4 separate regions of the Homo sapiens genome follow, and all the other regions are linked to region 2. The links come from fine-mapping of genetic effects on plasma protein levels. A gene starts in region 2. Each other region holds a variant in brackets. All regions are shown on one strand. Distances are from middle to middle.

What was found. PIP is the chance, under the fine-mapping model, that this variant and not a neighbour inherited with it causes the effect. Protein levels are from antibody-based Olink assays in UK Biobank. Linkage for the fine-mapping came from a reference panel and not from the study's own genotypes, which makes the PIPs less certain.
Region 1: its variant is fine-mapped to the plasma level of the KLK14 protein (UK Biobank, PIP 0.94).
Region 3: its variant is fine-mapped to the plasma level of the KLK14 protein (UK Biobank, PIP above 0.99).
Region 4: its variant is fine-mapped to the plasma level of the KLK14 protein (UK Biobank, PIP above 0.99).

The regions. Positions count from the first base shown.
Region 1 is chr19:51,030,730-51,038,829 of GRCh38, reverse strand. KLK12 (kallikrein related peptidase 12) reads left to right here and starts at 3,828. Exons shown (of 6, transcript NM_001370125.1): 1 at 3,828-4,024; 2 at 4,190-4,245; 3 at 4,691-4,850; 4 at 6,695-6,954; 5 at 7,909-8,042. The coding sequence starts at 4,209. RefSeq lists an enhancer at 214-714. The variant C/A (reference allele first, on the strand shown) is at 3,525.
Region 2 is chr19:51,078,102-51,086,201 of GRCh38, reverse strand. KLK14 (kallikrein related peptidase 14) reads left to right here and starts at 3,315. Exons shown (of 6, transcript NM_001369775.2): 1 at 3,315-3,480; 2 at 3,566-3,627; 3 at 4,499-4,670; 4 at 6,500-6,753; 5 at 7,251-7,387; 6 at 8,043-8,100. The coding sequence starts at 3,588.
Region 3 is chr19:51,006,428-51,014,527 of GRCh38, reverse strand. KLK9 (kallikrein related peptidase 9) reads left to right here and starts at 4,936. Exons shown (of 5, transcript NM_012315.2): 1 at 4,936-5,023; 2 at 5,189-5,345; 3 at 7,805-8,070. The coding sequence starts at 4,981. KLK10 (kallikrein related peptidase 10) reads left to right here. Exons shown (of 6, transcript NM_145888.3): 6 at 1-1,789. RefSeq lists enhancers at 4,553-5,053, 7,450-7,949. The variant G/A (reference allele first, on the strand shown) is at 3,162.
Region 4 is chr19:51,091,901-51,099,980 of GRCh38, reverse strand. It overlaps CTU1 (cytosolic thiouridylase subunit 1), which reads left to right. Exons shown (of 3, transcript NM_145232.4): 3 at 842-2,375. The coding sequence ends at 1,380. Among named protein-coding and RNA genes, the nearest start is that of CTU1, 12 kb to the left of the region's middle. The variant T/C (reference allele first, on the strand shown) is at 4,569.

The DNA of each region.
Region 1 (8,100 bases), 47 kb after region 2:
GGTGCCTGTAATTCCAGCTACTCAGTAGGCTGAGGCAGAAGAATTGCTTGAACCCAGGAGGCGGAGGTTGCAGTGAGCCGAGATTGTGCCACCGCACTTCAGCCTGGGCAACAGAGCGAGACTCCATCTCAAAAAAACCCAACCAACTCAACAAACAAACAAAAACCAAAAAACAGGTATGATCTCTTGGTCATAAATTGAGGGGGGATCCCAGCAGGTCCCATTTGTTCAGATTCTTCTGGGCCTTTCTGTGTTGCATTTCTTCCTCTGCAGGACACCTGTCACATGAGGGTCTTCAGGGGAAAAGGAATTCTAGTGTCTGTGACTGCTTCAAAGGAGAAGTAAGGGGAGAGGAGAGGAAAGCAGGAGGAGGTTGGAGAGAACCTCTTGTTCCTGAGGTCTTCCAATCTCCTTCAGCTCAAAGCACTCAGCATGCTGAAGTTCCAGACTCTGGGCTATCACGTTCTGACATGCAACACAGGCAACACCCCAGCTCCATCCACGTTTCTCCAAAAGCACAGGCATGACGTCATATGGTGACAAACACCCTTGTCCAAAGGAAGCCCATAGGATACGCTAATTCTAGATTCACAAATACTCTAGAGGAACTCACACAATGGGATGGGCCAGTGCCCCACACAGAGTATGAGGCCTCCCACCTTGGTTGAATATCTTTTTCTTTTTTTTCTTTTTTTTTTTTTTTGAGACGGAGTCTCACTCTGTCACCCAGGCTGGAGTGCAGTGGCTCGATCTCGGCTCACTGCAACCTCTGCCTCCCAGGTTCAAGTGATTCTCCTGCCTCAGCCTCTGGAGTAGCTGGAATTACAGGTGCCCACCACCACAACTGGCTAATTTTTGTATTTTTAGTAGAGACGAGGGTCCACCATGTTGACCAGGCTTGTCTCGAACTCCTGGTCTCAAGTGATCTGCCCACCTCGGCCTAGTGCTGGGATTACAGACGTGAGTCACCACGCCCGGCCCCACCTTGGTTAAATTTCTGAAAATCATTTGGTAAAGTGAGGACCCCTCCAGCTGAGACACTGCCAGGAAACAGCTATTGAGTCTCTTAGCACCCACAGCATTAAAACAAACCCAAAACATTTTAGGCCTCGTTGAGTTCTGGAGGCAAAATATTCCTCATCTACAAATTTATTTTATTTTATTTTTTAATAAAAGTTATTATTATTTTTTTTTATAGAGAGACAGGGTCTTGCTCTGTGACCCAGACTAGAGTGCAGTGGTGTGACCATGGTTCACTGCAGCCTCCACCTCCTGGGCTCAAGCGATCCTCCCACCTCAGCCTGCCAAGTAGCTGGGACCACAGGTATGCCCCTCCCCCAGGCTAACTTTTTTTTACTTTTTGTGGAGATGAGGTCTCACTATGTTGCCCATGCTGGTCTTTTTTTTTTTTTTTTTTTTTTTTGAGACGGGAGTGCAGGCTGGAGTGCCCAGGCTGGAGTGCAGTGGCACAATCATAACTCACTGCAGCCTCAAACTCCTGGGGTCAAGTGATCCTCCCACCTCAGCCTCCCACATAACTAGGACTACAGGCCTGTGTCACCATAATGCCTGGTTAATTTTTTTAGTTTTTGTTTGTAGAAACAGGGTCTCACTATGTTACCCAGGCTGGCCTCTAACTCCTGGCCTCAATCCATCCTCCCATCTCAACCTCCCAAAGTGCTAGGATTATAGCCACGAGCCACCATGCCCGGCCCCATACTTATATTTACTTGTAGTGAGAACACTTAAACCCTACTCGGTCAGTAATTTTCAAGTACACAATACATTGTTACTAACTATATACATGGTATTTTTAATTTGCATGAATGCTCCTTAAAATCAGCGAGCCCGCCTTATTTTTTGTATTCAATTTTATTGGATATAAATTCCACATCAGTAAACCTGATTCTCTTAAAAATCTACACAGAAAAAAAAAAAGAGAGAGAGGTTGAGTTGGGTAGTTGTTGGTATTTTTGTTTTTGTTTCTTTGCTTATTCAGTTGAGGTTTATTGTAAAACTTGACACCAGAAAAAGGAAGAAGTGGCGTTTTTGTGCTGTGAGCGTGTGACGTGTGTCCTTTCCAGAGAAAGGACAGTCATGGTGCTTTTTTATCCTCTCTGCCCAAAGAAGGAAAGCTCTTAACAGCCAGCAGGAGGCTTTGTAGGGACCAGCGTTATCAACGCCAGTCGCGCTGACCAATGATGAGTTAAAGCAGTTAGGTCGTTTCTAAGAGCAAATCAAAAGCTAAGGTTCTGTGATTCTGAAAATGAGACACGGACAGAGACTGGAGACCCAGAGAGAAAGTGAAGGACTAAAAGACAGTCATAGGGTGGGAGTTTGCTCTCCTCTGTTTTGTTCTGGGTTTTTTTGTTTGTTTGTGCGCTCTGTCTGACCGCTTTTCTTTTTTTTCTTTTTCTTTCTTTTTTTTTTTTTTTTTTTTGAGATGGAGTCTTGCTCTGCCGCCCAGGCTGGAGTGCGGTGGCACAATCTCGGCTCACTGCAAGCTCCGCCTCCCACGTTCAAGGGATTCTCCTGCCTCAGCCTCCCGAGCAGCTGGGATTACAGGCATGCACCACCACACTCAGCTAATTTTTGTATTTTTAGTAGAGATGGGGTTTCACCATATTGACCAGGCTGGTCTTGAACTCCTGGCGTCAAGTGACTTGCCCGCCTCGGCCTCCCAAAGTGTTGGGATTACAGGCGTGAGCCACCGCGCCTGGCCCTGACTGCTTTTCTCTTGGTTTGTTTCTCAATCCCCCTTCCTCTGAGCCGAATTCCCTTTTTGTTCTCATTTTCTCTCTCTGTCCCCTCTCTCTCTCCTTCTTTCTCTCCTTCCATTCCTCCTAGATGAAGCAAAAACTCAGATAAACCAGCACAGAGGCCAGGTATGGTGGCTCACACCTGTAATCCCGGCACTTTGGGAAGCCAAGGCAGGCAGGTTGCTTGAGGCCAGGAGTTCAAGACCAGCCTGGCCCACATGGTGAAACCCCGTCTCTACTAAAAATACAAAAATTAGCCGGACATGGTGGCACGTGCCTGTAATCCCAGGTACTCAAGAGGTGGAGGTTGCAGTGAGCGGAGATCACAGCCCTGCACTCCAGCCTGGGTGACAGAGCGAGACTCCATCTCAAAACGAAAAACAAAAAACAGCACAAAGTTCCCTTGTCCTGTGACTCATTCTCTCTCTCTCTTTCTACCATTTCTCCTTCCCTGTGTCTTTTTTTTTTCTCTCTGTGGGTTTTATTTAAGCAATAGAAGTTCTTAGCAAAGAAAAACTTTATGGAATTAGATTGATCCACTTCATATGTACATATATGAACTCAGTTCAGAAACTCTCTTCTACCCCTGCCTGATCACCTATTTGGAAGTCTGTTCCTTCAACTCTTCTTCTCTTTCTGGGACTCTTTCTAGCTTGGGCTTCCTGCCCCTCCCGTCCACTCTCCTGCTTTCACAGCCTCTCCTTCCCCCTGCCCCTCCCCTGCACTGCATGGGGATGGGCCCCAGGTGTCCAAGGTCTCCCCACC[C/A]TCCTTTGTCACTGGAGTCAGGATTAGAACCCAGCTCCCTAGTCACCTTGAGTCATCAGTCCTGGGGCTGCTGACGGGCTTGCAGAGGAGAGAGGGAGTGGGGCTGGGTCTTCCCACCCTGGGTCCTTTCCTCCTTCCCCACTCCGTTTAGCTGTAAAGCTCAATTAAGTGTGATTAGCTGAGAAGAGTTTCTGCAGAATTAGAGCACGCCCCACCCCTGTCTTCGTGGTCCCCTTCCCTTAACCCGGAAACTGGATGGGCCAGGACAAAGAGAGTTAAGAGCTTTGTCAGTGGTCTGTCTGGAGCGACAGATGGAAGGAAAGGGACCGGTTGAGCAACATGACAGGTGGCTGAGGAGCCAGGTGCAGAGTGGTAGAGTTGGCTGGCGGAGTGGCCAGCACATGAGAAGACAGGCAGGTAGGTGGACGGAGAGATAGCAGCGACGAGGACAGGCCAAACAGTGACAGCCACGTAGAGGATCTGGCAGACAAAGAGACAAGGTGAGAAGGAGGTAGGCGACTGCCAATGAGGGAGTGACACACAGGGGAGCAGGTAGAGAGAGGACAAGCAGGTCATCCCCTTGGTGACCTTCAAAGAGAAGCAGAGAGGGCAGAGGTGGGGGGCACAGGGAAAGGGTGACCTCTGAGATTCCCCTTTTCCCCCAGACTTTGGAAGTGACCCACCATGGGGCTCAGCATCTTTTTGCTCCTGTGTGTTCTTGGTGAGTTCTCCCGGAGCAGGGAGAGGGCAGGACTGCGACTGGATCCCTTCACCCCCATGAGGAGGCCCCACCACCCTCCCCATCTCAGCTCTGGCCCCCAGCCTGGTGGTGAGGAGGAGAGGGGCTTTCTCTGTGCCTCCATTTACCTGCAGCTCTCAGGGTACTGCTCACCTCGGTCTCCCCTATTTTTTGATCCCTCTTCCCTTCTGTCCCTCTCTGAATCTCTGTCTCTCCATTTCCCTCCTATGTGTAAGCATCTTTCTCCCTGGGTGTCTTTGATGTTTCATGGTCTTTTTCTATCACTGGGTCTCTCTCTCTTTCTCTCTCTTTCTCGTCTCTCTTTCTCCTCTCTCTCTCCTGCCTGTTTCTCTCTCTCACTCTGTGTGTCTCTCCATCTCTGTATCTTTTCTTCCTCTCTCTGACCCATGCCCCTGTCTGTCTCCAGGGCTCAGCCAGGCAGCCACACCGAAGATTTTCAATGGCACTGAGTGTGGGCGTAACTCACAGCCGTGGCAGGTGGGGCTGTTTGAGGGCACCAGCCTGCGCTGCGGGGGTGTCCTTATTGACCACAGGTGGGTCCTCACAGCGGCTCACTGCAGCGGCAGGTAAGTCCCTTCCTGGGGTGGGCGAAGGGAGGACTATGGGAAGGCAAGCGCTGGGGGTAGGATCACAAGGGAGGGTGGTGCCCACTGGGAAGAAGCTGATCCTGCAACAAGAGAGTCTGAGGTTAGACCAGGAGTGGAACTTCCTTAGCAGTGGGCCTGGGGTGGTGCTGGGCAGGGTGAGGTATGTTGGGTGGAGGGCCGGGGAGGGTCCTGGAACCTGCCCTCCTGCCTCTCCCATTCCTGCATGTACCCTTTCTTTCCTATATGACATCTGCCACTCACCCCAGCCATTCCTTGACCCAGTCTGGGCCCGGGGCCCAGGTCTCACCCAAGCTCTTTTTCTTTTTCTTTTTTTTATTTTTTTGAGACAGGGTCTCGCTCTGTCGCCCAGGCTGCTGTGCAATGGCGTGATCACAGCTCACTGCTGTCTCTGCCTCCCAGGTTCAAGTGATTCTCCTGCCCCAGCCTCCTGAGTAGCTGGGATTACAGGCACCCGCCACCATGCCCAGCTAATTTTTGTATTTTTTGTAGAGACAGGGTTTTGCCATGTTGGCCAGGCTGGTCTCGAACTCCTGGCCTCAAATGACCTGCCCGTCTTGGCCTCCCAAAGTGCTGGGATTACAGGTGTGAGCCACTGCACCCGGCCAACATGACCCAAACTCTTTGTGCAACTTCAGAATCTATGCCTGGCACCTCTCTGGGCCTCAGTAGACTGATGTTCTGGAATTTTTTTCTTTTTCTTTCTTTTTTTTTTTTTTTGGAGACAGAGTCTTGCTCTTTCTGTCATCCAAGCTGGAGTGCAGTGATGCTATCTTGGCTCACTACAGCCTCAACCACCTGGGCTCAAGTGATCCTCACACCTCAGCCTCCCAAGGAGCTAAGACTACAGGCCTGCGCCACCACACCTGGCTAATTTTTAAATTTTTTTTGTAGAGACAGGGTTTTGCTATGTTACCCAGGCTGGTCTCAAACTCCTCAGCTCAAGCAATCTTCCTGCCTTGACCTCCCAAAGTGCTGGGATTACAGGCATGAGCCACTGTGCCTGGCCTGGAACTTTTTTTGTGAAAGGGGAGATCAGATGCAAAGAAACAGAGACTCAGGGAGAGAGAGGGCCAGCAGCAGGATGCAGAGAGGCCATTCATCAACCCACTCGTTCAATCATGAACCCACTCGTCCACGCATGAGCATGGAGGGCACATGCTCCGTGCCAGGCGGTGGGAATAAGGCAGTGAACAAGGTCCACTGATGTCCCTGCCTTCATGGGCTTCACCAGCCGAGAGAATCAGAAAGAGAGGCCTGGCGCGGTGGCTCACACCTGTAATCCCAGCACTTTGGGAGGCCGAGGCGGGCGGATCACTTGAGGTCAGGAGTTTGAGACCAGCCTGACACACATGGTGAAACCTTATCTCTACTAAAAATACAAAAATTAGCTGGGCATGGTGGCATGCTTCTGTAATCCCAGCTACTTGGGAGGCTGAGGCAGGTGAATTGCTTGAACCTGGGAGGTGGAGGTTGTAGTGAGCCAAGATGGTGCCACTGCACTCCAGCCTGGGCGACAGAGCGAGACTCGGTCTTGAAAAAAAAAAAAAAAAAAAAAAGGAGAGAGAGAGACACAGATGCAGGGACATGGTAGGAGAAACAGGGAACACCCAAGATGGAAAGAGGGTGATGGAGGTTGGGAATAAGAGCCTGTAAGAGAGACTCGGAGAATGAGAGTTGCGGGTGAGAGGACAGACAGTGAGGGGCAGAACAGTGGGGAGCGGCAGGAGCGCCTGAGTGTCCGTGGAGGGGTGCAAGGTGGGGGACTGCGTGCCTGCCACCCGCTCAGCCGTCGCCACCGGCAGCAGGTACTGGGTGCGCCTGGGGGAACACAGCCTCAGCCAGCTCGACTGGACCGAGCAGATCCGGCACAGCGGCTTCTCTGTGACCCATCCCGGCTACCTGGGAGCCTCGACGAGCCACGAGCACGACCTCCGGCTGCTGCGGCTGCGCCTGCCCGTCCGCGTAACCAGCAGCGTTCAACCCCTGCCCCTGCCCAATGACTGTGCAACCGCTGGCACCGAGTGCCACGTCTCAGGCTGGGGCATCACCAACCACCCACGGAGTAAGGGGCCCAGGGCCAGGGGTCAGGGGTCAGGATGGGTACAAGTCTGGGATGCAGGGCGAGAGGTCGAATCATGACACCTCAGAGGAAGGATGGGTAAAGGGTCAGGGTGTGGGATGGGACATCAGGATCATGGTTTGGGGTCAGAGATTATGGTGGATTGGGGTCTTGGGAGCCAAAGGGGTTAAAGGACTGGGTATGAAGTCAGGGATCAGAGGTCAGAGGTCAGAGTGTGTCAGAGGTCATCACACTGGAGCAAAAGGCATATATATATATATATGTATGTATAGGATATGGGCATTGTGGGTCATGGGTCTGGGGTTAGAGGTCACCGTAGAATTAAGGTCATGGGATCCAGAGGTTGTACAATCTGGTCAAAATCTGAGGATGGAAATTGGGATTCTATCCAAAATCACATATCTGAGATTGGAGGTCATAGCGTTTGGGGTGTGGGGCCCGAAGTTTGGGGTCATGGAGGCTGGGGCCCAATAAACTAGGATCAGGGGACACTGGCGTTGGAAGCAGTGAGGTTTGGAAGATGCAGAGCTGAGGTTGGAGGTTAAGGTAAAGACAGGGACATGGGGTCAGGAGACAGAAGATATGAGATCAAGCTGGGATCATAAGGTAATAAGACAGAAGGTCAAAGATCACAGTAGCTGGCATTGAAGAGGGTCAGGTCTGGATTCGTTGTCTCTGACGCTGGAGAGACAAGAAAGTTCTTGAGTTATGCCACTCAAAGTCAAATGTCAAAGATCAAAGAGACCGTCAATCATCTGGGGTCATGATTCATATGAAATTAAGTCATAAATATGTAACTTGGAGGTTTCGGGATTGTAGTACAGGTCGGTGAGGGGCAGGGGTATTGACATGGATGGGCCACATCCAGGGAAGAGGGACGTGGCCTCAAAGTGGGGAGATTTAGGGGACCCTGCAGCACGCATGTTCTCTCTCCAGACCCATTCCCGGATCTGCTCCAGTGCCTCAACCTCTCCATCGTCTCCCATGCCACCTGCCATGGTGTGTATCCCGGGAGAATCACGAGCAACATGGTGTGTGCAGGCGGCGTCCCGGGGCAGGATGCCTGCCAGGTGAGCCAGTGCAGGCAGCGTGCGTGGTCACCAGGACAGGAAGTGAAGGGGAGGGGCT
Region 2 (8,100 bases):
TTCCAGTCATTCTGTGCCCTGGCTCAGGCTCTGCATAAACACAAGAACCCCCTCTTTATTTATTTGTTTGTTTATTTATTTATTTTGCAACAGAGTCTCGCTCTGTCACCCAGGCTGGAGTGCAGTGGCACAATCTCAGCTCACTGCAACCTCTGCCTCCCGGGTTCAAGCGATTCTCCTGCCTCAGCCTCCTGAGTAGCTGGGGCTACAGGCACCCACCACCATGCCCAGCTCAGTTTTTTTGTATTTTTAGTAGAGATTGGGTTTCACCATGTTTTCCAGGCTGGTCTTGAACTCCTAACCTCAGGTGATCCACCTTGGCCTCCCAAAGTGCTGGGATTACAGGCGTGAGCCACAGCACCTGCCCCCCTGCCACCCTTTAAAGAAAGGATTCTCTTGGATCTCAGGGATAGAGTGGCATGAAGGAGCCACTCCCAGGCTCCTGGGGGTTGACCAAGGCCTTCTGCTTAAGTAGGGTGTTCTTTTTAGGAACAGGGAGACCTTGTGTTTACTAGGAAATTCTGTTTTATTTTTAACTTTTTCCTTTGAGATAATTACAGACTCACAGGAGGCTACACACACAGCATAGGGAATCTCCCTCACCTACTTCTCCCCGTGGCGACACCTTGTGTAACTGTCGTTCAGAATGGAAACCAGGAAATCAACACAGAAACCAAACTATTAATGAGACTACAGATCACACTGCGCGTTCATTTTTCACACGCATTTCTTTGCACGTGTGTGTGTGCACGTGGGCTTCTGTGTCTCTTTATCTCATGTGTAGAATCGTGTAATCACCGCCACATCCAGTGCAAAGCTGATTCGTCACCACAGAGCAGCTCCCTCCTGCCACCCCATCCCTGGGTCCCAAGAGAACCCTTTCTTAAAAGAGGGAGTTCTTGACGGGTGTGGTGGCTCATGCCTGTAATCCTTGCACTTTGGGAGGCCAAGGAGGGTGGATCATTTGAGGTCAGGAGTTTGAGACCAGACTGGCCAACATGGTGAAACCCTGTCTTTACTAAAAATACAAAAAAATGAGCGGGGCATGGTGGTGGGTGCCTATAGCCCCAGCTACTCAGGAGGCTGAGGCAGGAGAATCGCTTGAACCCAGGAGGCAGAGGTTGCAGTGAGCCGAGATTGAGCCACTGCACTCCAGCCGGGGCTAAAGAGTGAGACTCTGTCTCAAAAAAAAAAAAAAGAAAAAGAAAAAAAGAAAAAAAAATAAAATAAATAAATAAATAAAATAAATTTAAAAATTTAAAAATAAAGAGGGGGTTCTTGTGTTGATGCCGAGCCTGAACCAAGGCAGAGGAGGCCGGGAAGGCTTCCCAAGGCCTTCAGCTCAAAGCAGGGAGGCCCATAGTTAAACAGAAACAGTTCAGGAATCACAGAAAGGCACCTGGGGAGAGATGGGTGTGTGGCTCCAGATGCAGGTGCCCAGACAGTGCGTCCCCAGGTGTACAGACAGACCCAGGCCAAGCTCCAGCTCAAAGAGCCAGCCTAGGGGGGTGCCGAGGTGGAGGGAGGCTGAGTCAGGCTGAGGCCGGGGAACAGTTGGGGTAGCCAAGGGAGGCAAGCAGCCTCCTGAGTCACCACGTGGTCCAGGTACGGGGCTGCCCAGGCCCAGAGACGGACACAAGCACTGGGGAATTTAAGGGGCTAGGGGAGGGGCTGAGGAGGGTAGGCCCTCCCCCAAATGAGGATGGAACCCCCCCAACTCCAGAACCCCCCTGCAGGCTGGCCAGAATCCTTCCCCATCTCATTCACTCTGTCTCTCCTGCTCTCTGCCGTCTCCTATTTTGAATTTCCAACCCCGTCTGTTAAGACTGTCCTTCTGTCTCTGAATCTCTGTCCCCTTCTCTTTCTGGGTCTCTCTCCCTCTCCCTCTGGGTCTCTGTCCCCCTCTCTGGGTCTCTGTCACTCTCTCTTTGCATCTCCAGCTCTCACTTTGTCTCTGCACCTAGCAGATCCCAAGCTGGGGAATGCCAGTTCTGGCACCAACCTTCCTGCTCCCTGCTGGGGCCTCTGCTCCCCCATCTCTCAGGAGTCGAAAGTGAGAAAGCAAGGTGGGCAGCTCTGCTCCAGGTCCAGGTATCTCCCGCCCACCTCCTGCCCGTCCTCTATCCCACCCCTCCTCTCCATCTCTCCCTGGCGCTGCCATCTCTCATCTAGGCCTCCGTCTCCTCTGTCATTGTCCCCATCCCCTGTAGGTGCCCATCCTTCCCGTCTCCCCTCTGCCATCGGCCTGCCTGTCCCATCCTCTTTCTCCCACCATGTCCCGTTCTCTTCCACGTCTCATGCCCGCACTGCCTTCATCATCATCGCTGTTGTTCTGTGTGTGTTTGTGGTGAGTGCCGCATGGTGGGGGCGTCTCGGCCTCTCTCCTCTCTCTCCACTGTTTTCTCTTTCTGTGTGTCTGTTTCCATTCTATCTCCACCTTCTTCCCTCCGTCTTTTGCTTTTCTATCTCCACTTCTCCACACCCCTCTCTCCCTGCGTCTCTGTGTCTCCCTCTTCCTCTGTCTTGTTTTTTTCCCACCGTCTGCCTCTTCTGTTCCCTGTCACATCCAACTTCCACCGGTTTCTCCAGCTCTCTCCTCAGTTCCTTCTCTCATGAGCACACCTGCCTCTGTGCTCGTATTCCTGGACTCCTCTCTCTCCACTGTCATATCTTCTCATTCATTTTCCCAGTCTCTCTCTGTCTCTTGCTCTCCCCCTCTCTGTCACTCTGTCTCTGTCTCTCTCTTTCTCTCTCTCTCTCTGTGTCTCTCTGTCTGGCTCTCTCTCTGTCTCTCTCTCCATCTCTCTCTCTCTCTCCCCCCCGTCACCCTGTCTCTGTCTCTCTCTGTCTGTGTGTCTCTCTGTCTTTCTCTCTCTCCATCTCTCTCTGTCTCTCTCTCTCTCTCTCTCTCTCTCCCTCTCTCCCTCCTCCCGTGACTCCCTCTCTCAGTCCATCTCTTCCTCCCTCTCTCAGCCCCTTCGTGCCCTTTCCTCTGACACTCCCCACCCTGGTTTCCTGACTCCACCACTAGATCCACCACCTCCAGCAACTGGGAACCCTCCCCTGCCCACCCTGCCCTGGGGTCCCCTCCCAGGATTCCTTCTAGATTATAGCATCTTCCCTGGGCGGGTTCTCATGAACAATTGTGGCTGCTTTTTTGGCCAGACAGGGGAGGGAGGGGATGGGATCAGGGAGTCCTGGAATGGGAACTAGGCAATAAAAAAAAAAAAATGTCAGAAGCAGGGCGGCGGGAGGTGGGGGCAGGGCCAGCTGTCCTTACCAGGGATAAAAGGCTTTGCCAGTGTGACTAGGAAGAGAGACACCTCCCCTCCTTCCTTCATCAAGACATCAAGGAGGGACCTGTGCCCTGCTCCACATCCTCCCACCTGCCGCCCGCAGAGCCTGCAGGCCCCGCCCCCCTCGTCTCTGGTCCCTACCTCTCTGCTGTGTCTTCATGTCCCTGAGGGTCTTGGGCTCTGGGTAAGTGCCCCTTGCTGTCTCTGCCTCTCAGCCCCCGGTTCTGTTGAAGGTTCCTTCTCTCTCACTTTTTCTCTGCATTTGACAGGACCTGGCCCTCAGCCCCTAAAATGTTCCTCCTGCTGACAGCACTTCAAGTCCTGGCTATAGGTAAGAGAACGGTTGGGTATGACACAAGGGGGTCCCCTGGAGACTCTGAGAAGAGATGGGGATGGGTCCTTGGGGCCCCTGGATGCTCATGGTGACCTCATAAGAAAGAGCAGGGAGTGGTTTGGGGGTCATGGTGGGGGAACGTGCTGGAGGCCTAAATTCCTAGTTGTGGAGGTGCTAGGGAATTGTGGGGCCGGGGAGAGAGGTGTTTATAAGGTCTGGTGCAAAATACATAAGGAATCTTAGGGAACTATTAGGTCCTGAGTGGGTCATAGCAGAAAGATCACGGGGCTCTACCTGACTGTGTTAGGAAAGAAACAATGTCAGAAAGATGTTTTGTTGTCAGAGGGAAGGTGGAGAAGGATGATGGGATGGCGGGATCGTGGCATGGGGTGGCGGGATCGTGGCATGGGTGTGTGAGGTGGATGGGGGCAAGTGTGGGGCAAGAGATGGCGGATCCTTGGGGTCCCACTGAGTGGGAACGTTGGGGAGGAGACAGGGAGGTCCTTGAATGTGTTGGGGAAGGACTCATTGGGGGGAAATGTGGCATATTTCGAGAAGTGATCACAGAAATTATGGGAGCATAGAGCTAAGGGTCGTAGATGTAGCAAGGCCCTGGATAAGGTGGCCACGGCACAAAATAAGAGATGCTACGGAGGTGACTTGGGAGGTGAGTCAGAAAGCTCTCCGTGCTGGGGCAATAACGGGGTCAATATTGGGCATGTCTCACCCTGGGTGGGACAGATAGAGGCGGGCAGTTTAGGGGTTAGACCAAAAGGAAGGGGATTTGTCAGTTTTGGAATCCTACAAACTTGTGGAGTGGAGAGTGTTTGCTCATCTACTTTCCCCACCCAATCCTGTCCACTCCTAGCCATGACACAGAGCCAAGAGGATGAGAACAAGATAATTGGTGGCCATACGTGCACCCGGAGCTCCCAGCCGTGGCAGGCGGCCCTGCTGGCGGGTCCCAGGCGCCGCTTCCTCTGCGGAGGCGCCCTGCTTTCAGGCCAGTGGGTCATCACTGCTGCTCACTGCGGCCGCCCGTAAGTGACCCCCTCCCCTGTCCCTGTACCTAGTGAATTCCAGAGTCTAAAGCCCTAGAGCTGAGCTGAGAACCTGGATCTCTGTATAGAACCCAATGTAGTGGCTGGCTCCTGGTTTGAGGTCTAGAGAAGAGCCTGGAACAAAAACACAGCTCGGGATGTGGGCTCCTCCATAAATCTCGAACTCAGCATAGGTTCTGAAAGCAGATGGGCAGCTTGGAACCCATGGACCTGCTGAGAACCGAACATCTGATCCAGTGATTCTTCCAGAGGCCACACATTACATCGAGACCAAGCTTAGCCCATTCCAGATTGGTGGCTGAATTCAGGACCCCGTCTACATTCAGAAACTCAGGACACTACGTAGAACTCAGAGCCCAGTTCAGGACCTGCAGTCTAGCCATAAATCCAGAACTAGAACGCTGCTCACAGCTGGAACATACAACTCTAAGAATAGAGGCAAAACCTGGAGGCTGTTTCACACCCAAGGTTTAGTTCAGAGTCTAGTCTATAGCTCCGCTATGAGCAGACTTCAACCCAGTGTTTGAATCCCAGAATGTGGCGGGTGCGGTGGCTCATGCCTATAATCCTAGCACTTTGGGATGCTGAGGCAGGCAGATCACCTGAGGTCAGGAGTTCGAGACCAGCCTGAGCAACATAGAGAAACCCTGTCTCTACTAAAAATGCAAAATTAGCCAGGCATGGTGGCACATGCCTGTAATCCCAGCCACTCGGGAGGCTGAGGCAGGAGAATCACTTGAACCTGGGAGGCGGAGGTTGCAGTGAGTCAAGATCGCACCATTGCACTCCAGGCTAGGCAACAAGAGCGAAACTCCATATCAATCAATCAATCAATAAATCCCAGAATGCAGATCCTAATCAGAAGCCCCATATAAAACCTAGACCCCTCCTAAATTCTAGATCTGAACTTACAACCCAGACCCCAGCCAAGAGGTCAAAATGCCTATAAGCCATATCTATGCCATAAACAGGTCAGTCTAGAACCTAGAGATCAAAGCTCAGGCCAGAGTCTAGAATATAAAGGCCAGAATGCAAACCAGACTCTAGAATCTTGGATCCGGGCCATAACCTAGAGCTCCAACTAGAACCCAGAGCCCAACCTGAGGTCAAGGGCTAGGGCCAGAGTCCAGAACCAAGAGCCCTATAATCCAATATGAAACAGACCTGTAGAGGCTGGGTGCGGTGGCTCACGCCTGTAATCCCAGCACTTTGGGAGGCTGAGGCGGGAGAATCACTTGAACTGGGAGTTGGAGGTCGAGAGTGAGCTGAGATCGTGCCACTGCACTCCAGCCTAGGTGACAGAGCGAGACTCCATCACAAAAAAAAAATAAATAAATAAATCAAGTCATAATCCAGGTTCGATCTAGAATCCTGATCTTAGCATAGAGTCAAAAGTTTAAGATGTCTAGAACTCAGAACCCAGGCTAGAAACAGAATGGTGCCTACTCCGGAATATCAGTTCCGATTTAGAGCCTAGACTCATAACGCAGTTTCGCTTAGGACTCAATGCACCGAGCCCAGCACAGACCCTGGCACGGAGCCAAGCTCTCCCAATCATCACCTTCTTCCCAAGCCAGGAGCTGGAGCCCAGCCCAAGAGCGGAAGGAGAGGCAGCTGGGGCTGGGCCGAGAGAATGCCCTGGCCATGGGGAAGGGCACAGGAGGCCAAGAATGCTCGGCCTGCAGTTAGTGAGAAGCAGGCTAGACCTCGGGGAAGACTCGTCACCCGGCCAGGGAACCGGGCTGGAGGGTGGGGAGGAGTCTCTGGCTCAGACCCTGAGCAGCGCTTCTCTTGGGGGTCGTGGCCAGGATCCTTCAGGTTGCCCTGGGCAAGCACAACCTGAGGAGGTGGGAGGCCACCCAGCAGGTGCTGCGCGTGGTTCGTCAGGTGACGCACCCCAACTACAACTCCCGGACCCACGACAACGACCTCATGCTGCTGCAGCTACAGCAGCCCGCACGGATCGGGAGGGCAGTCAGGCCCATTGAGGTCACCCAGGCCTGTGCCAGCCCCGGGACCTCCTGCCGAGTGTCAGGCTGGGGAACTATATCCAGCCCCATCGGTGAGGACTCCTGCGTCTTGGAAAGCAGGGGACTGGGCCTGGGCTCCTGGGTCTCCAGGAGGTGGAGCTGGGGGGACTGGGGCTCCTGGGTCTGAGGGAGGAGGGGCTGGGCCTGGACTCCTGGGTCTGAGGGAGGAGGGGGCTGAGGCCTGGACTCCTGGGTCTCAAGGAGGAGGAGCTGGGCCTGGACTCATACGTCTGAGGGAGGAGGGGCTGGAGCCTGGACTCCTGGGTCTCAAGGAGGAGGGGCTGGGCCTGGACTTCTGGGTCTGAGGGAGGAGGGGCTGGGGACCTGGACTCCCGGGTCTGAGGGAGGAGGGACTGGGGGTCTGGACTCCTGGGTCTGAGGGAGGAGGGGCTGGGGGCCTGGACTCCTGGGTCTGAGGGAGGAGGTGCTGGGGCTGGACTCCTGGGTCGGAAGGAGGAGGGGCTGGGGGCCTGGACCCTTGGGTCTTATGGGAGGGTAGACCCAGTTATAACCCTGCAGTGTCCCCCAGCCAGGTACCCCGCCTCTCTGCAATGCGTGAACATCAACATCTCCCCGGATGAGGTGTGCCAGAAGGCCTATCCTAGAACCATCACGCCTGGCATGGTCTGTGCAGGAGTTCCCCAGGGCGGGAAGGACTCTTGTCAGGTAAGGCCCAGGATGGGAGCTGTGGTAGGGATTATTTGGGACTGGGATTTAAGCAAATGATGTCAGGAGCATGGAAGTCTGCAGAGGTCTTCAGAAGAGAGTGAACCGCAGGCACAGAGAGATTCCGATAGCCAGGCCACCCTGCTTCCTAGCCCTGTGCCCCCTGGGTAATGGACTCAGAGCATTCATGCCTCAGTTTCCTCATCTGTCAGGTGGGAGTAACCCTCTTAGGGTAGTTGGTGGAATGGGATGAGGCAGGTTGGGGAAAGATCGCAGAGTGGCCTCTGCTCATATGGGTCTGGGAAAGGCTGTGCTGAGGCTTCTAGAAATCTTAATGCATCCTTGAGGGAGGCAGAGATGGGGAAATAGAAAAAGAGAGACACACAAATGTTCTACAGTTGGAGCGAACAGAGAGGGGCCTGGTGAGATTCAAGGGACAGGCAGGTGCACACAGAGACAGAGCCAGACCCAGCGGAGAGGGAAGGAAGTGCCCCGACCTCCGGGGCTGAGACCTCAGAGCTGGGGCAGGACTGTGTCCCTAACTGTCCACCAGTGTCTCTGCCTGTCTCCCTGTGTCTGCTTCTCGGGTTCTCTGTGCCATGGTGGCTCTGGCTACCTGTCCATCAGTGTCTCCATTTCTGTTCCTCCCCCTCAGGGTGACTCTGGGGGACCCCTGGTGTGCAGAGGACAGCTCCAGGGCCTCGTGTCTTGGG
Region 3 (8,100 bases), 72 kb after region 2:
CCTCTGAGAGCAGTTACTGGGGTCACCCAACCTGACTTCCTCTGCCACTCCCTGCTGTGTGACTTTGGGCAAGCCAAGTGCCCTCTCTGAACCTCAGTTTCCTCATCTGCAAAATGGGAACAATGACGTGCCTACCTCTTAGACATGTTGTGAGGAGACTATGATATAACATGTGTATGTAAATCTTCATGGTGATTGTCATGTAAGGCTTAACACAGTGGGTGGTGAGTTCTGACTAAAGGTTACCTGTTGTCGTGATCTGACCACGTCCCGGTGAAAGCGTGTGTCCAGGGAAGAAGTGCACAGGGTAGCCCCCAGTCCCAACCTTCCATCCCCAACCCTTAGGGATGATGGAAGAATCATTTTCCTCACCCTAGTTCCAAGTCCCAGGAAACACCTTTTAACCACTTCCTTCTCATCTCCCACTGTTTCCCACTTCTGGTTCCACCCAACACCAGTTCCTCCGAGCTAGGCTGGCCCTGAGTCATTAGCACCTTCTCTGCCTTCATGAGGCCACTGAACTCAAGGGACCTCACCTTGCTTCTATCCCAGCCTCTAAGACCAGAGGGCCGAGGGGGTAGTGAAGATTGGGAAACCCTTGCCACCTCAACTGCCCAGCTTGTGCCAAGAAACCTCCCTCTGACATTTAGGGGAAAATCTTTGGTTTGTCTGTTATTAATTGGCTGTGAGATTTTCGTCCTGAAAACTTGGGAGGAGGAATTGTTTGATTCTCCCTGAAATTGGGGGAGGGAAGGGGAGTTAATACACAGAATCCAGGTAAGGCTAATAGAAGCTTCAGTGTCCGCTGGGTGTGGTGGCTCACGCCTGTAATCCTAGCACTTTGGGAGGCCGAGGAAAGCAGATCATCTGAGGTCAGGTGTTCGAGACCAGTCTGGCCAAAATGGTGAAATCCCATCTCTACTGAAAATACAAAAACTAGCCAGGCATGGTGGCAGGCACCTATAATCCCATCTACTTGGGAGGCTGAGGCAGAAGAATCACTTGAACCCGGGGGGCAGAGGTTGCAGTGAGCCAAGATTGCACCATTGCACTCCATCCAGCCTGGACAAAAGAGCAAAACTCCATCTCAAAAAAAGAAGAAGTTTGAGTGTCTCAGCTTATCCTGAACTTTGAAGCAGTAACATAAGCTAGCTGAATATAGGCACAACAGAAATTTCCCATTAAGCACGGGGTTTTTGTTTGTTTGTTTGTCCTTTCAGTTACCAATTTATGGAGCATCTATTATGTGCCAGGCCCAGTGCTGGGTGCTGGGGACATACGTAGGGGTGATCACAAGGTCCCCCACCCTGCAGAGCCCACAGGAGGTTGATGTACAAGGTCTGAGCACACAGCTCCCTTCCGTGGCCTCTTTCCCATTCTGCCCCCATTAGCACACGCAGGAAATGTCAGACAGGCGTATCAGCTGGGTTTGTCATCCAAAGACCAGAAGCGAGGTCGGTGGAAACTTGAAAACTCGATTCATTATTAAAGGCAACTCACCCGTCCCTTTAGTCACTCCACAATGTTTATCGAGCCACGTCTTATGCCAGGCCTCAAAGATGAATCAGACCAGGCACTACCCTCAAGGAGCTGCTAGTTAGGTCAGGGAGACAGGCCAGTCTTACATTCCTGTCATTCAGGTCTCCACTCAAAAGTCACCTCCTCCGGGAGGCCTTCCTGAATTGCCCAGGCTATAGGAGTCCACTTTTGGTCATCCAGTCCCGATGCTCTGTTTTTTGTTTGTTTGTTTTTTTTTTTAATAGCACCTATTATACCTGAAATTATCTCATTTGTGTTTACTTGATAATGGTCTATGTCACCCTTCCCCACAAATTCCGTGAGGGCAGTGATTCAGATATTTGTTCACTGTGATTTTCTAAGCTCCTGTATTGTGCCCGGCACACAGAAGTCACCCCCGTTGCTGTGTGAACACATAACACAAATAGATCAGTGCTGTAACAGAAGGGGGTATGGGGTGCACCACACCAAGTCCACAGGCTGTGCCTGAAGGAGTCAGGAAAGGCTTCTCAATGAGGGGACATTTGTGCAGGAGTTTAAAGGATAAGTAGGAGTTCACCAGGTAGAGAAGGAAATGCATTTCAATCACTTTGCTGTATGACTTTGAGCAAATTACTTGAATGCTGTCTCTTCCTCAGTTTTCACTCTGTGAAATGGAGACACCTGCTTAATTAGACTCCCGTGAGAGTTAAATGAGATAGGCTGGGCGCAGTGGCTCACTCCTATAATCCCAGAACTTTAGGAGGCTGAGATGGGTGGAATGCTTGAGCTCAGGAGTTTAAGATCAGCCTGAGCAACATAGTGAAACCTCGTCTCTACTAAAAAAAAAAAAAAAAAAAAAAAAAAAATTAGCCTTGCATGGTGGTGCACACCTTGTAGTCCTAGCTACTCAGGAGGCTGAGGCAGGAGGAATACTTGAGTCCAGGAGGTTGAGGCTGCAATGAACTATGATCATGCCGCTGCACTCCAGCCTTGGCAACAGAGACCCTGTGTCAAAAAACAAAAAACAACAACAACAAAAGGATAATTAAATGAGATAATATACATGCAAAGTTCACCTAACACCAGGCACTGAGAACACAGTCAATAAAGGTAGCTATTAAAATGCTCATTTTTTTTTTATTTTTCTTTTGAGAGTCTTGCTCTGTTGCCCAGGCTGGAGTGCAGTGGCACGATCTAGGCTCACTGCAACCTCTGCCTCCCGGGTTCAAGCAATTCTCCTGCCTCAGCCTCCCGAGTAGCTGGGATTACAGGCCGCCCGCCACCATGCCTGGCTAATTTTTGTGTTTTTAATAGAGTCAGAGTTTCACCATGTTGGCCAGGCTGGTCTTGAACTCCTGACCTCAAGTGATCCACCCACCTCGGTCCCCCAAAGTGCTGAGATTACAGGCGTGAGCCACCGCGCTTGGTCTAAAATGCTCTTAATAGCAGTTAAGGTGGCACTTAGCACATAGTGGATACCCAGTCCCTGATCTCAAGGACTTCCCTGTCTGGAAAGGGAGTGAGACAACTGCAGGCAAGGGTGAAATGAGCTATGATAAAGGCACCACAGGTTTCTGCAGGGGATGAAGAGACATTGAACATTTACCATGTGTCAGACACTGTTGTGCTTCATGTGTGTAAATTTGCTTAATCCCCCCAAC[G/A]ACCCTCGTTATTACTGCTACTTAACAGATGGAGCAGGCCAGGTGCGGTGGCTCACGCCTGTAATCCCAGCACTTTGGGAGGCTGAGGCAGGCGGATCACGAAGTCAAGAGTTGGAGACCAGACTGGCCAACATGGTGAAACCCCGTCTCTACTAAAAGTACAGAAATTAGCCAGGTGTCTTGGCGCACGCCTTTAGTCCCAGCTACTTGGGAGGTCGAGGCAGGAGAATTGCTTGAACCCAGGAGGCAGAGGTTGCAGTGAGCTGAGATCGCGCCACTGTACTTCAGCCTGGGTGTCAGAGCAATACTCCGTTTTGGAAAACAAACAAACAAACAAACAAACAAAAAACAGATGGAGCAACTGAGAGAGGTCTTGTGACTTGCCCAAAGTCACACACCTCATCACTAATCACACCTAATCATTGAGATTTGGACACACATGGTTCAGTTCCAGAGTCCATGCTCCAAACCATGACGACACAGTGAGAGAACATTCAAGGGGAGCCCAGACCCAGCTTCATAACCAGGCCTGTGAGCAGGAGAAAGTGGAAGGGATCGTAAGTGCCCAGGGGAGGCAAAGATGGACTCTGCCTGAGGATCTCAGAGATTTCCTGGAGGAGGGAGAATTGAGGTTGGGTGTTGAAGGATGAGTGGGAGTTCACCAGGAAAAGAAGGATATGGAGAAAGACATTCACTCATTCAATGAACATCTCCTGAGGACTTCTGCAAGCCCTGTTCCGCCTGGAACGGGGTGATGCTGGGACACAGAGATGAGTCAGACCTGGGCCCAGCCCTCCAGAAGCTGTCCACCTGGTGAGAAGGAATGATGAGGAGAGAGGCAGGGAGGATGGGGTGATGGAAGGGACAATGGGGTGGGGGGCAGGGAGATGGATGAAAAAAATATATAGCAAATGTTCTCAGGATTTGGCAAAGATCAGGATGTATTAAGAGAGAGCACAGGGCACTTGCTACCTGGAAGGTTGGGCACCTGGGTCCTTGGGTGGTGGAGCCGTGGGGAAGGGGGCAGGTTATGACAAGAGTGGGTTAATCCAGATGGAACCAGATTTCTCAACATTCTAGGAGAGGGCCTTGTCCTTGTGGGAAGAGGCCCAAATCCCCAGGGCAGGGAAGGTTCTGCAAGGTGTGTAAACCTGTGCAGCTGCCTGTGGTCTCTGCCTCACTCCACCTGGATTTCCCTCAATCTTTCCCGTGTTCTGTCTCCTCCTCCCACTCCTCCTCTCATCTTGGGTCCTTCTGTGCCTGTACCTCCCTCTCTTTGTATCTTTTGCTCTTGTGTCTGAGTCCTGACTCTGTCTTCCACCCCTCGCCTCCTTTCTGGGTGGTCCCCCTGCACATCCCTCCAGCCTGCCGTGGGAGGTTGGTCTCTGCACACCACTGCTTTATCCAAAATAAACCTGCTGCACCCCAGGACCTTAGGCTTCAAGGATCTCCCTCCTTTTCCAGGACACAAAAGATTCTGTATCTTGTAGCCTAAGGTGATGAGGAATGAGGTCTCCCACTCTGAAGACCCCAGAGGAGGTGCCCACAACCTCTCCACACCCCCAGCACTCCTCCTCCATTCAGTCAAGCTCTGGCCCAGCAAGCCGCCAGTTCATCCCAAAAGGGGGGTCCCCCTGCACTTACCTCCTCTCCCAAGGCCCCTGTCACAGCCCCAGGGCTTCCCCCTCCCCCAGGTACATTTCCCAACCCCGATTAATCACAGGGGCGGCCCCATGGAGGAGGAAGGAGATGGCATGGCTTACCATAAAGAAGCACTGGACGCCGGGTGCACGTTCCAGGATCCAGGTGCCCAGGGGTCATGAAGCTGGGACTCCTCTGTGCTCTGCTCTCTCTGCTGGCAGGTGAGGCTCCCAGGCTGGCTGCCCCTTCACGGCTGTACTAAGGTCACCTTGCTCTTCCCTCCCATCCCAGGCTTCTGCCTCCTGCCCTCTAGGCTTCTCAGCATCCTCTCCCTGCCCTCCCAGCCTGCTCTTCGCTGACCCCTTTGTCCCTCATCCCCACCCCAGGGCATGGCTGGGCAGACACCCGTGCCATCGGGGCCGAGGAATGTCGCCCCAACTCCCAGCCTTGGCAGGCCGGCCTCTTCCACCTTACTCGGCTCTTCTGTGGGGCGACCCTCATCAGTGACCGCTGGCTGCTCACAGCTGCCCACTGCCGCAAGCCGTGAGTGACCCAGGCTGGCCATGCTGGGGAGGGACAGAGGCTGGGGGTCAGGAGAGGGTGAGGGGTGCTTTAGGCCAGAAGTGCGGAGCCTCCACTTCTGATACCACAAGTTCAACTCTTAGAAGTAGGAAGGGTAGCCTCCCAAATCCTAAAATTCTAGAGACCAGCAATATCTCATTTGAGAAGTCTAAGATTCGAAACTTAGGCTCTTCGAATCCGAGACTGACCCAGAGAAATCCAGAATCGTAGAATCCTAAAATCTTGAATTTATGAAATTCTGCAATAGCCTCAGCAAATTTTAGAATCATAGATTCGCAGACTATTAGAATCTTAGCAGTCTGGGTCAGCACTGCCCAGAGGAATTATGATGCCAGCCACATGTGTAAGTTTAAATTTCTGGTGGACACATTTAAAAAATAAGGAATGAGTAAAATTAATTCTAATAGATTTAACTTGACATACCCAAAAACTTATTTTGACATGTAATCAATTTTTAAATACGTATGAACGATACAGTTTACTTTTGTTTTGGTACTAAGCCTTTGAAATCTGTTCTGTATTTTACACACATAGCCTGTTACAAAATGGACTAGCCACATTTCAAGTGTTCAATAGCCATAATGGCTAGTGTGATCCTAGAATCTTAAATTCAGAGCTTTCTAGATTCATTGAATATTGAAACTCACAGTACTAGAATCTTTGATTCACAGTATCCTAGAATATTGAGATTCAGATAATTCTGTAGTCTTAAACTATTTGAATCCCAGACTCTTAAATTTCTAAGGTTATAGATTTATAGAATGATGACATTCTAGTCTTTCTTTTTTTTTTTTTTTTTTTTTTTTGAGACAGAGTCTCCCTCTATCTCCCAGGCTGGAGTGCAGTGGCACAATCTCAGCTCACTGCAACCTCTGCCTCTCGGGTTCAAGCAATTCTCCTGCCTCAGCCTCCTGAGTAGCTGGGATTACAGGTATGCACCACCATGCCAGGCTATTTTTTTTTTTTTTTTTTTTTTAGTAGAGACGGGGGTTTCACCATATTGGCCAGGCTGGTCTTGAACTCCTGACCTTGTGATCTGCCCGCCTCGGCCTCCCAAAGTGCTGGGATTACAGGCGTGAGCCACCGCGCCCAGCCAAAATTCTAGTCTTTTTGTCCTAGAACATTAAAATTCTATGTTCAAATCTTAGATTTAATTCAGATAATGTTAGAATCCTGGAGTTTTTTTGATCCAGGGGAATCTGGAATGTTAGAATCTTGGATTCATAAAACTCTAAACCTTGAGCCTCTAGATTCTAGAATCATGGATAATAGTGTGTCGGAATCTGAGAATTCTAGAATCTTAGGTTCTGGGCATTCTAATAGTATCCTGGAATCCACCTGATGCAGGAATCCTCTCTCCATTGCCTCTGAAAAGTGACCATCCATACTGTTCCAATTTTCTTCCCTCCATGAGTAAAGCACTGATTGTGGTAAGAGATGCTGTGTGGGAATTTCCCATCATGCATTGCTCCATGATGGAACCTCCTTTAACTTAAGCCTATACATCAGACTGGGAGAACGATGTTCAGATTTCAGCCGAAAGTGAAGCAGGAGAAATGCAGAGATATGAAGGTGGAAGAGAGTGAGAGGCAGGGGAAGGGTAGGGGGATGAAGGGATGTAGGGGTGAGGACTACTTTTCCAGATCCAGAGCCAAGACAGCAAGAATGACAGAGAGAGACAGACACAGATGTTTCTGGTTCCCCAACCCTGAATTCGCAGTCATTAGCCTGCTGCCTAATGTCAGAGGTCAGAGGCTGGGGAATGGACTTGTCATCCCCGAAAGGATCCCAGCTGTCTAGGGCATGGACCAGAAATGAAACAAGTGCGCTGAGACTGTGGTGAGGGCTTAAGGTTAGACACCAGGAAGACATGCATTGAAGGGTGAAGGATATGATAGACAGGAAAAGCTGAGGCCAGAGATGACCCCCAATTTGGGGATTTTCCATATCCCATCCCCTTTCATACACACGCACACGTATACACACACACCACTTAGACATACAGAGCCGCTCCCACAGAAGCCACCAGACCTGTGGGGGCAGGGGTGGGGCGGTTGTTATGTGGTAGGTGGGGTCCCCCGTGCCCACACCGTTCCTAGGGACCCAAGTCACCACCAAGGCTCCAGGTGAGTAGGGAGGAAGGTGGCTCACTCAGCCTGGGACTAGGAGCGGGGGCTTTGTGGGGAGAGCTACAAAGATGGAGACACACAAAACATCAGAGTGGGGACCAGGGACCCAGAGGAGGTGTGTGCCTCGCTTAAAATCACAGTACCCTGGGCCAGACATAGATGATGAGGGTGCAGAGAGGGTGTGTGGCTTGCAGAGGGTCACACAGCACCCTGATGGACAGGAAAAGAGGGCTGGGGCTGAAAGGACTTTTACCTTTCCCCCAGCTTGACCTCTGAGGCCTGTCCCAGCAGGTATCTGTGGGTCCGCCTTGGAGAGCACCACCTCTGGAAATGGGAGGGTCCGGAGCAGCTGTTCCGGGTTACGGACTTCTTCCCCCACCCTGGCTTCAACAAGGACCTCAGCGCCAATGACCACAATGATGACATCATGCTGATCCGCCTGCCCAGGCAGGCACGTCTGAGTCCTGCTGTGCAGCCCCTCAACCTCAGCCAGACCTGTGTCTCCCCAGGCATGCAGTGTCTCATCTCAGGCTGGGGGGCCGTGTCCAGCCCCAAGGGTATGACCTGGCCCAGAACTCTCTCTGAAA
Region 4 (8,080 bases), 14 kb before region 2:
ATGGCCCTATCTCTCCCTTTTCTGCCTCCCTCCTCCCCTCTAAGGGTCTTTGTGATTACCTTGAGCGCACCTGGATAACGCACCATTCTGTCCCTATTGTAAAGTCAGCTGATTAGCAGCCCCAATTCAACTTGCAACCTTAATTCCCCTTTGTCCTACAACCAAACATATTAACAGGTTCCCAGAATTAGGCCATGGATTCCCTAGGCGGTGGGGGAGACAGCAGCCTGCCTACCCCTCCAGCTCTCCTGAGAATCTCGGTTAAATGCCTTAAATGCCTTCTGATTTTTGTGTACAGTTTGAATTACGGTTTTAACTGAGGCTGATAAGGTTATTAGCAGCATAATGCACTTTTACTCCCTATATGAAAGGGCAACTAGCATAAGGTCCGCTATGCAGTAGGCGGGTGGTACATGAAGGCACGCCCAAGTTGCGCCAGGGGAGCTTATGTTTCTCTTTGATTTTTTGTTGTGTCCACCTGCAGCCTGCACCTGGCTGCTTCACGGTTCCCGGAGGGTCTCCATGGCTCGCTCTTGCCCTCCCCGTCTCTCTCTGCGTCCTGGTTGCCCACAGTGCCCTAGGGGTCTCCATGGCTCTCTCTCCCCCTCCCTGTCTCTGGATCCTGGCTGTCACACCATGTTTGGGGGTCTGTCTCCATGGCTTGCTCTCCCCGTCGCCGTCTCTCTCTGGGTCCTGGCGGCCCCACTGTGCCCTGGGTCTCCGTGGGTCTCTCCTCCCAGTCTCTCTCTGGGTCCTGGTGGACCCTTGGTTCCCCGGGGGGCTCCCTGGCCAGCAGCGCCCTCCGCGCCCCACCTCACCCGCTCCCTTCTCTCCCCACCAGGTCACAACGCCGACGACATGGCGGAGACCGTGCTCATGAACTTCCTACGGGGCGACGCGGGGCGGCTGGCCCGGGGCGGGGGCCTGGGCTCTCCCGGCGAGGGGGGCGCCCTGCCGCGCTGCCGCCCGCTGCAGTTCGCCTCGCAGAAGGAGGTGGTGCTGTACGCGCACTTCCGCCGCCTCGACTACTTCTCCGAGGAGTGCGTCTACGCGCCCGAGGCCTTCCGCGGCCACGCCCGGGACCTGCTCAAGCGCCTGGAGGCGGCGCGGCCGTCCGCGGTGCTGGACCTCGTGCACTCGGCCGAGCGCCTGGCGCTGGCCCCGGCCGCGCGGCCCCCGCGCCCCGGCGCCTGCTCCCGCTGTGGGGCGCTGGCCAGCCGCGCGCTCTGCCAGGCCTGCGCGCTCCTGGACGGCCTGAACCGCGGCCGGCCCCGCCTGGCCATCGGCAAGGGCCGCCGGGGTCTGGACGAGGAGGCGACGCCGGGGACGCCCGGGGATCCGGCCCGGCCCCCCGCCTCCAAGGCCGTCCCCACCTTCTAGCGACTTCGGGCCTCCCGCCGGGATCTGATGCCGCGGGGTGGGGGCTGCCTGTAAATGACACTGTGAATAAACCCGTTACCTTACCTGGCCTTCCATGTGGGGTTGGGAAGGAGACGGGGGCCCATTCACCTGAAACCCTGAAGAAGCTGGGACCCCAGACTTCGAGGTCTCAGGGAAGAAGGGTCTCGAACTGGGCTTCAGGCTCTGAGGGAGGAGGGGGCTGGGGGACCATCCTAGGTCTGAGAGAGGAGAGGGCCAGGACTAAGCCTAGAAGAAGTGGGACTGGGGACCCCAGGCATCTGTGGCTGAGGAAGGAGGGCCTGGGGTCGTGGACTCCTGGGTCTCAGGGAGGAGGGGGCTGAACACCGTGTGATTCTTGAGCGAGTGGGGATTGGTTGGGGACCTCCTGCCCAGGGCCTCTGCTGGTTCTGGGTGCGCTCAGCATGGTCCTGACCCTCCTTGAGCATCAGATTCCTGATGTTTCCTGTTTGCCCGCAGTGGGGTAAGCGGAGCGTGACTTGATGGACACACGCCATTCACAGCCGCCGTCACGATGCCTCCCTTCCAGCGCTTCGTGTGTAGCACGCACTGCACCCTCATTTCGTCTCCACCACGGTCTCACTGGCTGTAGCCTGAAGTGGTAAATGGCCCTAAGACACCCAGTCGGAAGGGGTCACACCGAGGGCTCCCTCCAAAGCTCTCGAATATCACAGGTCGTGGAATTGGTCCTCCCCCACCCATCCCCTCTCGAATCTCTCCTGGTATCTCTGTCACGGGTGAGGAGGGGTTGGATGCGTTCCCCAAACCTTGGACTCTGGAGGCAGGGTTGTGTGAGCCTGTCGGTGACTTAGCCTCTTTCATGTCCCATTTCTCCTATGAAAATATAATCAGCCCCCTTCCCCCCCGCCCCCCCATCCCCCCCGCATCAAGGCACCACTGGGAGGAAATGGAAGATCAGAGAAGTTGAGGTGCTCAATAAATGGTGACCACTTGGACTTGGTCGTTCATGTTACTGTCTGACCACCAGGGGGCGCCGGGTCTCAGGGTTGCTGTCCTGTACAGGTACGGGGAGGTTGTGAGAATCTCAAACTTCCCGGGGAGATGGTGCTCTCAGTCCCACCTCCAGGACTTGCTGGGCTGGCTTCTTGTCAGAAATGCCCCTTCTTCCCATCACCCTGCTCAGATCCTCCAGGGTCCTCCTAGAAGGCTTCTCAATTCTCTCCTCCCATCACCCAACCCAGGGCTTAGTATTCTCCCAAACCCCTGCTTCTCAGTCCTGTCTTCACTGTGTGGCCACCCAAACTTGGGCTGGAGGCCAAGGACTAGATGATTCACTCAAAACGTGTATGAGCATCTCCTTTGCATCAGGCACTCCTCTGGGTTCTAGGAACATGGCAGTGAACAGGAGACAAGTCTCTGCCCTCATGAAGTTCAGTCTGGGAGAAACGGACAGCAAGCACATCAATATGTAATGTCAGGTAGTGATGAATGCTACAAATTAAAAAAAAAATGATGAGAGAGAGAGACAGGAAGAGCTTGTTTCCACAGGGGTCAGGGAAGGAAGGGCCTTGGAGGAAGTGACGTTATGCACAGACCTACAGAAGCAAAAGAACAAAGCATGGAGCCATTTGGGGGAAGAGCTTTCCTGGTGGAGGGAACTGCTGGTGCAAAAGCCTGGAGGGGTGGGAATCAGCTTGCAAGTGCAAGGAACAGCAAGTCCAGTGTGGCGGGAACAGAGTGGGTGAGGAGGAGAATAGCAAGAGATGAAACGAGCCACTAAGCAGGGATGGGCCGTGCATGGTCTTCTGTTGGCAAGAAAGACTTGTATTTTAAGAGTGATGGTAGGTCTTTGGAGGGCTTTGGTCCCAACAGTGGGTCCAATTTCCATTTTCTAAAAGTTACTCCAGCTGCTGTGAGGAGAATGAGCTGTAGGGGGTGCAAGATGATCAAGATCAATTGTATAGGATGACGCTTGTGTGCCAGTCCTAGTGCCAAGTGTGCCTGCCTTCCTCATTAGCTCAGTGACATAAGGAATGGGTTTTCAGCACCAATTTTTTTTAACTGGTATGTAGAAGAATCTAAAAGTTTATTTTTTATTTTTTAATATTTTATTTTTCCATAAGTTGTTGGGGTACAGGTGGTATTTGGTTACATGAATAAGTTATTTAGTGGTGATTTGTGAGATCCTGGTGCACCCATCACCTGAGCAGTATACACTGCACTGTATTTGTTGTCTCTTTTCCCTCGTTCCCCTCCCACTCTTCCCCCCAAGTCCCCAAAGTCCATAGTATCATTCTTATGCCTTTGCACCCTCATAGCTTAGCTCCCACATATCAGTGAGAACATAGGATGTTCGGTTTTCCATTCCTGAGTTATTTCACTTAAAATAATAGTCTCCAATCTCATCCAGGTCATTGCAAATGCTGTTAATTCATTCCTTTTTATGGCCGAGTAGTAGTCCATCGTATACGTATACACCACAGTTTCTTTATCCACTCGTTGATTGATGGGCATTTGGGTTGGTTCCTTCAGCACCAATTTCATAAAGGATGAAATTACAGCCCAGAGAGGTGAAGTAAGTTGCCCAGGGCCACACTGCAGCAAATCAGCAAAGGAGCTGGAGCTCTGGACACTTTTGCTGGGCTACCTGCTGGAAGCCAGGGGACCTAGGTTCCTATTGCTGACGTGCCAGTGATTTACTGTGTGGCTTTGGGTAAGGGACCTTTTCCCTTCTGTTCATTGGAGTTTGTCCCTGTGCATGGGGTGGGGTGGGCAGTGGATTAGATTTCTTTTGTGGTTTAAGGCACTCTCCAATCGAAAATGCAAACCGTATGTATAATTTAGAATATTTTCATAGCCGTATTTTTAGAGAAGGGACACAAGTGATATTTTAATAAATTTATTTGACCCACTTATACAAAATATTATAATTTTAATATGTAATCAGTTTGTTAAAACTTAAGCGAGATGTTTTATACATGTTTTTTCATATAGAGTTTTCAAAATTCGGTGTGTATGTTACACTTTCGGCCCATCTCAATCCAGACTCCCCACAGTTCGGCTGCCACATGGGACCTGTGGGCACTCCACTGGACCGCGCAGGTTTGCAATGTGCTTCCTAGACCCAGACTGCCTGAGTTCAGAACCAAGCTCTGCCGGGAATGCTGTGTGACCTTGAGCAGGTTCTT[T/C]GGCTGTACAGTGTGGGGAGGAATGGTACTTCCGTCCTGTGGTTATTGTTAAAAATACATATCAGTGCTTAGAAGAGCGCCTGGCATTTAGTGAGTGCTCGCCGTCCCTCTTAGCCTGGGCTTGCGGCCTTCCTCATGGGGGTCTCTGAAGAGCTGGGGGTGCTAGGTGTGGTGGCTCACGCCTGAAATCCCAGCACTTTGGGAGGCTGAGGCAGGCAGATCACTTGAGATCAGGAATTTGAGATGGAACCCTGCCTCTACGAAAAATACAAAAATTAGCCAGGCGGGGTGGCAGGTGCCTGTAATCCCAGCTACCCAGGAGGCTGAGGCTTGAACCCTGGAGGCAGAGGTTGCAGTGAGCCAAGATCTCGAGATCTGGCCACTGCACTCCAGCCTGGGCGACAGAGCCAGGCTCCGTTTCAAAAAAAAAAAAGAAAAAAAAAAAAAAAAGCGGGGCGGGGGGGAGGTGCTCTTTTCGTCTCTGGCCACAAGGGGTCGCTGTGACCTCGCCTGTGCATCCGGTGGTCATTGACATCAAAGCCAGGTCTCCCCCTCCCCAGCCCCGACTGGGAGCTCAGCTGTCTCTGCCCACCTGCCCGCTGGTCTCTGAGCCAGTCCTTAAGGGTGAGAGACACAGGTTGGCAGAGATCTTAAGGCCCCGTATAAACACCAGACACTCCTTGACCTCAAGACCCCTGTGTCATCCACTCAACAAATACTTTTTGAGCAGGTGATTTGTGACAGCAGTGAACAGAACAAAACCATGCCCTCAAGGGAGATACAAAAAAAAAAAAAAAAAAACGAGAAAAATAAGTCAAATATATGGTATGTTGGATCGTGATAATCGCTTCTATTTAAGTAGGAGGGACGGGGAGGCTTCAAGGAGGAGATATTCAGGGAAAGGTGCAGGGTGAGGCAGAGAGCACAGGGGTGGAGGGTCTCTGGGAAAGTGTTCCTGGCAGGAAACAGCAAGTGCAGACTCTGAGATTGAGGGAAAAAGGAGAGGGGGCAGGTGGAGGAGAGAGGTGAGAGGGAGAAGCGACTTTGGCTTGGCTTTGTTTCTAAGCACTGCAGAAGCCATGGAGGATATTTGAGTAAAGGAGGGATACTGATCACCCCTTTATTCATGCAGCAAACATTTCCTGACGCCTCCTTGGAGCTGGCGGGCCCTGCGCAGGGCGGTGGGGCAATGCAGCTGAGTCAGCCCCAGTCCCTGCCCTCAATGGGCTCCCTGTCTGCCAGCGGAGGCGGGCAGGGATACTGGCAAGTCAAGATCCGGAGGGATATGTGCCACCGTGGGGCTTAGGAGGGACACAGGGGAGGCCTGAGGTGGGGCTTCTAACTCAGTGCGGTGCGTCATGGAACGCTTCCTGAAAGAGGTAATGTGTAAACCGGGAGCTGGAGATGAGTAAGAATGAGCACAGGAAAGGGCGAGATGGGGACAAATGTGCAAGGCAGAGAGAATGGCAGGCACAGAGGCCTGCAGGCATGGGAGCCCCAAGTCCCTGCGAGGCTTTGCCGCTCCTCCCTGTGCAGGATGGTGGAGGGGGTGGCCAGCCCTCCATAAAGCACTGGAATTCTTCTGGCCGGGATGGGGCACTTAGGGAGGGCGAGAGCAGACAGGGCCGGCTCTGGGTGTCAGAAAGATCCCTCTGGGGCCGTGTCCAGGAAGGACTGGAGTAGGGAAGACTCAGCCAGGAGGCCAGGGAGAGGGCTGGGACAAAGGTCTGGGAATGGATTTGGTAGCCAAAACTGGGGCAGTGGCGAGGGTGTCAGGATGGTGAGAATGGATGTGAGGGCCATTTAAGAAGTCCTCACCAAGAGCTGGGAACCCTATTCAATGCTGAGGGTGTGTTTCCTAAGGGCGAAGAGCCCTACGTGTTCTCAAAGGCAGTGTAAATCCAAGAGACATTTCTTCCAGGCAGACTGAACAAAAACAAACAAAAAAGATGTTCGCCACATATGCCGGTGGCCATGGTAAACCCGGGAAATTCTTTTGCTGGAGGAGGAAGGCTTGGTAAATATGGAGGGCAGGGGCAGGGAGCTGCTGAGGCTGGAGGCCCAAGTGAACACAGACGCTCCTTTAGCTAAACAGGAGGCCCCAGTCTTCATGGGGACAAAGGGACTTTTGCTGTGGCCTGTGGCCTTGGCAAACACAGCCTCTACATAAACACAACTAAAGGTGGCAGTGGGGCGAAACGCCAGCGTCTCATCCCATCAGGTCAGAAGCATTCTCCCCACTGCAGGGATTTGGAGCCCAGTCTCAGAAAGACCGGCTTCCCCATCTTCCACCTGTGTGCTCTCCTGGGGCTGGGTCATTGGAGATCGCTGTCAGGTCTGAGGAGGTGGAGACATTGAGTGCAGAGATTCTGGAGAAAAGCAGAGATTCTAAACAGGCTCTGAGATGATCTTCCTCCTTCAGCCTGTTATAGAGCCCCTGCCACGTGCCGGGTGGCAGACGTGGCAACAGGGATTCAGCAACAAGATAGACAAGGTCCCTGCCCTCGTGAAGCCTCAGTTCTAATAAGAGATGCCTCTTCCTTCCACAAAGGTTTACTGAACACCTCCTATGTGCCAGGGCATAGAGGCAGATAAAGACAGTGAAAATCCCTGCACTGTCAGGGTTGCCATTCAAGTCGTGGGAGACAGAGTAGACGTAAGAGTAAGAAAGTAAATAAATAAAACATGAGAGACATCCGACAGTAATAAACACCATAGAGAGGAAGAAAACCAGCAATAATAATAAACAAGGAAGCAAACCGATAGAGCAATTACAGATTGAGATAAGGTGTAGGAAGGAAACCCACAAGAAGCTGAGATGGAAACTGGAAGGGAATGCCAGCTCTGGAGAAGGTGGTCAGGAGATGACCTTTAAGCTGAAATCTGAAGGAAGATCACAGGCAGAGTGGTGGGAAGCATGTCCCAGGCAGAGGGAACAGCAAAGGCCAAGCCTCTAAGTTGGGAAGGCGCCTCCCAATGTTGAGAAGATGGAAGAAGTTCCAGGGGGCAGAGGCACAGTACACAATGCAGTGATGAGGTTGGAAGGATGGACAGAAGCCAGACACCAAGTGCCTTGGAGGCATTTGCGTTTTATTATAATTGCAGTGGGCACTCACAGATGGGTTTTAAGCAGGTTTTAACATGATATTGTTTTAAGAAGACGTTGGCTGCTGAGTAGAGAATGGACTTAGCAGGGCGAGGGAGGGAGGGGTTGGGGGTCGAGGCTGGAAGCAGCGAGACCAGTTTGGATGCTCTTGCACCTGTGTAGGTGGGAGATAAGGGTGACTTGGAAGAGGGCGACTGAGAGGAGACAAGTGGGTGGATTCTTTACTGTGTACTTTGGAGCTAAGTGACAGGAACTGCCAAAATGGGAGGTGAGAGCGAGGGAGGAATCAGAGACGCTCCCAAGCGTCTTTGACCCAAGCACCTGGGGAGAGGATACTAACTTAGAGGAGACACAGGGGGAAGGTTGGGGTACACCGTGGAGCTTAAACAGAAATAAATGGGAGGGG